Regions from separate parts of the Homo sapiens genome. Here region 1 is linked to region 2. Evidence: fine-mapped QTL for protein levels in blood plasma. A gene starts in region 2. The other region holds a variant in brackets. All regions are shown on one strand. Distances are from middle to middle. Region 1 overlaps EFCAB11 (EF-hand calcium binding domain 11). Region 2 holds the start of TDP1 (tyrosyl-DNA phosphodiesterase 1).

Evidence for each region. PIP is the posterior inclusion probability: the model's chance that the variant is causal. The UK Biobank Pharma Proteomics Project read protein levels with antibody pairs (Olink). The fine-mapping took linkage between variants from a reference panel, not from the people measured, so its PIPs are less certain.
Region 1: its variant is fine-mapped to the plasma level of the TDP1 protein (UK Biobank, PIP 0.93).

The regions. Positions count from the first base shown.
Region 1 is chr14:89,883,568-89,886,477 of GRCh38, reverse strand. All of the region lies in intron 5 of EFCAB11 (EF-hand calcium binding domain 11), which reads left to right. Among named protein-coding and RNA genes, the nearest start is that of EFCAB11, 70 kb to the left of the region's middle. The variant T/G (reference allele first, on the strand shown) is at 1,263.
Region 2 is chr14:89,954,491-89,957,400 of GRCh38, reverse strand. TDP1 (tyrosyl-DNA phosphodiesterase 1) reads right to left here and starts at 1,474. Exons shown (of 17, transcript NM_018319.4): 1 at 1,431-1,474; 2 at 601-823. EFCAB11 (EF-hand calcium binding domain 11) reads left to right here and starts at 2,671. Exons shown (of 6, transcript NM_145231.4): 1 at 2,671-2,815. The coding sequence starts at 2,741. RefSeq lists a silencer at 1,147-1,376 and an enhancer at 2,442-2,910.

The DNA.
Region 1 (2,910 bases), 71 kb after region 2:
GGCGCGATCTCAGCTCACTGCAAGCTCCGCCCCCAGGGTTCATGCCATTCTCCTGCCTCAGCCTCCCGAATAGCTGGGACTACAGGCACCCGCCACCACGCCCGGCTCATTTCTTTGTATTTTTAGTAGAGACGGGGTTTCACAGAGTTGGCCAGGATGGTCTTGATCTCCTGACCTCGTGATCCACCAGCCTTGGCCTCCCAAAGTGCTGGGATTACAGGCATGAGCCACCACGCCTGACCGAGCAGATCACTTTCTATAAGGTGAGAGGGCCTCATCTAATCAGTTGAATGCCTTAAGAGAAAACATGTAGGTCCCCCAGGGAAGAAGCAGTTCTGCCCACAGGCTGCCTTCAGATTTGAGGCTGCAACATTAACTCTTCCCTTGACTCTCTGTTATGTTGCATTGGTCTGTTTGTCTATCTTTGTGCCAGTATCACACTCTCTTTATTATATAACTTTGTAATCTTGATGTCTGGCAGTGTAAGTCCTAGAGCTTTGTGTTTTCTTCAGAATTATCTTGGCTATTTTTAGCCCATTGTGTTTTAAAATAAATTTTAGAGTCAGTTTTTCAATTTCCACCAAAGAAAAAAAAAGAAAAAAACAAGAAGCCAACTTCAAACCCAAAAGTTGCTGTCTTCTTTCTTTCTCTTTCCTTCTTTCTTTCTTTTAGTTGCTGTCTTCTTTCTTTCTTTCTCTCTTTCTTTCTTTCTTTCTTTCCTTTCTTTCCTTTCTTTCTCTCTCTCTCTCTTTCTCTCTCTCTTTCTTTCTCTCTTTCTCTCTCTTTCTCTCTTTTTTTTTTTCAACAGAGTCTTGCTCTGTCACCCAGGCTGGAGTGCAGTGGTGCGATCTCAGCTCACTGCAACCTCCACCTCCCAGGTTCAAGCGATTCTTCTGCCCCAGCCTCCAAGTAGCTGGGACTACAGGCGCACGCTACCACGCCTGGCTAATTTTCTGTATTTTTAGTAGAGATGGGGTTTCACCATGTTAGCCAGGATGGTCTCGATCTCCTGATCTCGTAATCCACCTGCCTCAGACTTCCAAAGTGCTGGGATTACAGGCTTGAGCCACCACGCCCGCTGGCTGGGTTTTTAATTGAATTTATATTGAATCTTTAGACTAGATCAATTTGGGGAGAACTGACAATGCCAAAATGTTTTAAGTCTTCCAGTGCATGAATAAAGTATATCCTTTTGTTTTTAAAGGTCTTATTTAACTTTCCTTGCTGTTTTGTAGTTTTAATGTAAAAGTTTTACACATATT[T/G]TATCAGATAATTCTGAAATATTTGGTTTTTATGTAGTTATATAGATTTTTAAATTTTATTTTCTACTTATTTAGATATACAATTGTTTTTTATATGCTGGTCTTACACCAGCAGCATGACTGAATGTCTTAGTCTAGTCCGTCTGTTGTAACAGAATACCATAGACTGGGTGGCTTAAACAACAGAAATTTATTTTCTCACAGTTCTTAAGACTGCGAAGTCTGCAATCAGATGCCAGCATGGTCTGGTTCTGGTGAGGAGGCTCTTCCTGGCTTGCAGATGGCTGCCTGCCTGGCTGTGTGCTTCTGGGTCCTTTCCTGGACATGTGCACAGAGTGGGGGATCTCTTGCTCTTCTTATAAGAGCACTAATCCCTTATGATGGTCCCACTCTCATGACCTAATTACTTCCCAAAGACACCACCTCCAAATACTGTCACATTGTGGGTGAGGGATTCGACACAGAATTTAGAGCAGGAGTGGGCACACACATTCAGTACATAATACAAAGTTAACTTATTCTAGTACTTCGTCTTAGTAATTGTAATAGTATATATTTTATGTTTTCTAGGCATGCAATCAAGTCATCTTCAAACAATAGTAGTTTTATTTCTTCTTTTCCAATTCTTATGTCATTGATTTCTTTTTCTTTTCTTACTATATCAGCTAGGGTCTCCCACATAGTGATAAATAAAAGTTATGTGAGCAGGTATCCTGTTTCTTCCCCATCTTGGTGGGGGGAGGGGAAAACTTTAGTATTTCACATTAACTATGGAATATGCAATAGGTTTTTGGGTTTTGTTATGTTTTTAGGGGATAAATAACCTTTATTAGATTAAGGGAGCTCCTGCTTTGCTAAGAAATTTTATCATGAATAAATACTGACTTTTATTAAATGCTTTTTCTGCTCATGTTGCCATAATCATATTTTTCTCCTTTACCCTGTTAATGTGATGATGATATGCAGTAGACCAATAGTAAAAATAGAACTATTGTACCATTAGTAAATGTGAGGCTTAGAGGATATACAATTGTATAATTTTTTTTTGTTAAGGGCATTTAAAAATTACTGTTTTCTTATTATTTTTTAGAGACAGAGTCTCCCTGTGTTGCCCAGGTTGGAGTGCAGTGGTGAGAGCATGGCTCACTATAGCCTCAAACTCCTGGGCTCAAGCAATCTTCCCACCTCCGCCTCTGGAGTAGCTGGGACTATGGGCATGTGCTACTATGCCCAGCTAGTTTTTTAAAACTTTTTTGGAGATGAGGTCTCACTCTGTTGCCCAGGCTAGTCTTGAACTCCTGGCCTCAAGCAGTCTCCCACCTCCATCTCTTGAGTAGCTGGATTACAGATGTAAGCCACTGTACCTGACTATATGGACATTATTTGTAGTAGATTCCACAATGCTGTTAAATTTGTCTATATCTAACAGGTACTTGGGAAGAATAATTAAATGAACAGAGAAGTGGTTTAGAAGTGACAGGTGACTTGGCATTTGTGTCCAAATAAAAAGTAAATGTACATTTGGCCCTCTATATCAGCAAGTTCCATGTCTGTGGATTCAACCAACTGAGGACAGAAAATATTTTTTTTAAGTTACATCTACGCTGAACATATACAGACTTTTTTCTTTGTCATTATTTCCTAAACA
Region 2 (2,910 bases):
TGAAATGGATATCATGCTTACCCCCTGGAGTTCATTCATTCAATAACTTACTGGGCAGCTATTATGTACCAAAAACTGGGAATGAGGCGTTAACAATATAGTTTCTACCCTAGCAGAGCTAATTTCAGGGCAGAAGAGACAGACCCACACATAAAAATTTTAATAGCCAAGATGAGTTAGACATTCATTACATTTTATAAGTATGAGACAGAAAAATAGGGGTGACCTTTGGAATATACTTAAAAAGTAACATATAAATGAGACCCAGAGGGCCAAAAGGAACCTGCTGTCTAAATGATGGGGTGAAGAGCATTCCCAAGTAGAGGGAACCCAGCCGGCAGAGGTGGGAAAGAGGTCATAAGAAAGGACTTAGGCAAGGCAGGCAGTGGTCCGAAGCGGGTGAGGGGAGAAGACTTGTTAAAGAAATTGGATTTTATGCAATGATCAATGGGACCCCACTGAGGGCTTTAAGAAGGGGAGTCCGATTTACATTTATTTTTTTGAGACAGAGTCTCGCTCTGCCGCTCAGGCTGGAGCGCAATGGCGCAATCTCGGCTCACTCCAACCTCTCTGCCTCCCAGGTTCAAGCAATTCTCCTACCTTAGCCTCCCGAGGAGCTAGGATTACAGGCATCCACCATCACGCTCGGCTAATTTTTCTATTTTTGTAGAGACGGGGTTTCACCATGTTGCCCGGGCTGATCTCAAACTCCTAACCTCAAGTGATTCAGCCGCCTCGGCCTCCCAAAGTGCTAGGATGACAGGCGTGAGTCACCGCGCCCGGCCTTCGATTTGCCTTTTTAATACAGCTGTGTGCTCCAACTCTGCGGAGAATGGGTTGAAGACAAAGGAAGTGAGAGGGCTCTTGCTGAAGGCGTTGGGGACGGAGCAGATTCAGAACGTGAGGAAGTGACGGCAGCAGCTGCTAACCTTACTGCGTGCTCATTTGGGGCCGGCCAGGCACGATTCGAAGCGCCTCACCAAGTGTAAACTCGCTTCACCCTCAGGACAACTCTATACTACGTACCGTGACCGTCCTCCTATACTGGGAAACCGAGCACAGAAAGCTTAAGCGCCTGGCACGTGGTGGGCGCTTTCCTACTCACTTTCTGGGACCACGCACCTGTAAGCTTAGGTCTGGGAATAAAAACCCGAGCAGGGGCCCCTAGCGCCGCGCCCCGGCAGGACACAGGTCTCCGCAGCGCCCGTGCGCGCCCCCTGAGGCGCTGTGATCGGAGGAAACCGAGGCCCCGGGGCCGAGGCGACCCTGCCCCATCTTCCCGGCCGCGCCGCTTCCTCGCGGTCCGCCTCCAGCCCTGCCGGACCCCAGCAGCCCGCGCACCGCGACTCGGCCAGGAGCAGGATCCCGGGCCCGACCGCAGCCCGCGAGAGACCGCACCGAGTCCGCGCCCACTGCCGCCCAACACGTACCTGAGGCGCACAGAACCAACGCTTGCCTCGGATCCCGCCCCTTCGGCGGCCGCCGCGCATGCGCGCAGTTCAAACCCTGGCGGCAGCGGCTTGTGCCTCGAGGCCCGGCCCCTTCCCCTTCCGGAGAGCCCACCGCTGGGTCCTAAAGCCCGCCGGGTGTTTACCCAGGACGGGGCTGGGGAAACCTGGTCTCTCCTAGCTCTTGGCTTACTTCCTGGAGACTTCTTAAAACGAGAGGAGAACCAGAAAGGCGTCCCCTAACTTCGCTCTAGTTAACTAATAGCAAGACTCACCCTCTTTACAGGATTCTCATGGCTCAGGCTCCCAGGGCTCCATGCAGCGGCGTTTGGTTTAAAGTGGAGAGAGGATACGCTTAGGTTAAAGGCAGCTGCAAGGAGACCTGTGTCCTGGGAGGGGCTGGGTGCAGACTTTGAAATCTGCTGCAAAATAAAAAGTTAAATGAGTTCCCATTGGACTCAGAACCTCGAATGTCTGTTCCTTCTTCGCAACAGTTGCGTTCTCGTAAAATCTTCTGAGAAAAGGAACTCGCCCCACGTTCCTTGCCTTTAATAAGGATGTTTGCTGTGGGATTTGGGCTCGGTGCTGTTTATGGTATTTATTCTTGGAATCTCTTTCACACTAGGCATCTCTTCCAGAGGACTGAGTGAAATACATCTGTGTAAATATAACGGCTCGTTTCGTTCTTTCATTGAAGATCTACTTTGTGCCAGGCACAGTGCTAGGTGCTGGGATTATCTTGAGGACATAACAGATGTAGTAGCTGCCCTAGGAGCTCGATCCCAATGACTTGCTGATCTGAACGAGAATCCTGGACTTGGCTCTTTTCGTTTGGTTCTTCTTGTTTGTTCACAGTCTTTTTGTCTCCTATAACGTTTAGCATAGTGTCATAGATCTAAATGATTAAAAGTAACCTATTGCAAGATGGAGGGAGAGAATGAAATAAATCATGAACCAGGCATTGAACCAGCACCTAGAAGCGCTTGGATTTCCAGCCGCGCTCAACGAGTTAAGGGACAGTCAGGGGGTGGAGCCAAGTGCTGGGGGCAGGCCTGGGCGCCTCACTGCCAGGGCGGCTCCAAGGAAACGTAATTAAACAAAGACTCTGGCCAATAGCCCTGCGGGATTAACGCGAGTGGCTGGCAGGTTGTCCAATGGGAGGAGACGTCGGAGTTGCGCGGTGAAGTTCGGCTTCCTGAGCCGCGGTGGGCGTGGCCGCGGTAGGCTGCCAGCCAGGCTGGGAAAGCGGTGGTAGCTGGTTGGGTTGCTGGGGCTCGGTTGTTGTAGTCGCGATGTTCTTCTCCGAGGCCAGAGCCAGGTCGCGGACGTGGGAAGCCAGTCCCTCGGAACACAGGAAGTGGGTGGAAGTAGGTTTCCGGAGGGCGACTGAGCCTCGGACTTCAGCTTGGCCTGGGCCTCTCGCTTCCTCTCCCGTGTCTGGGTCTCACTCTGCCGGGTGTGC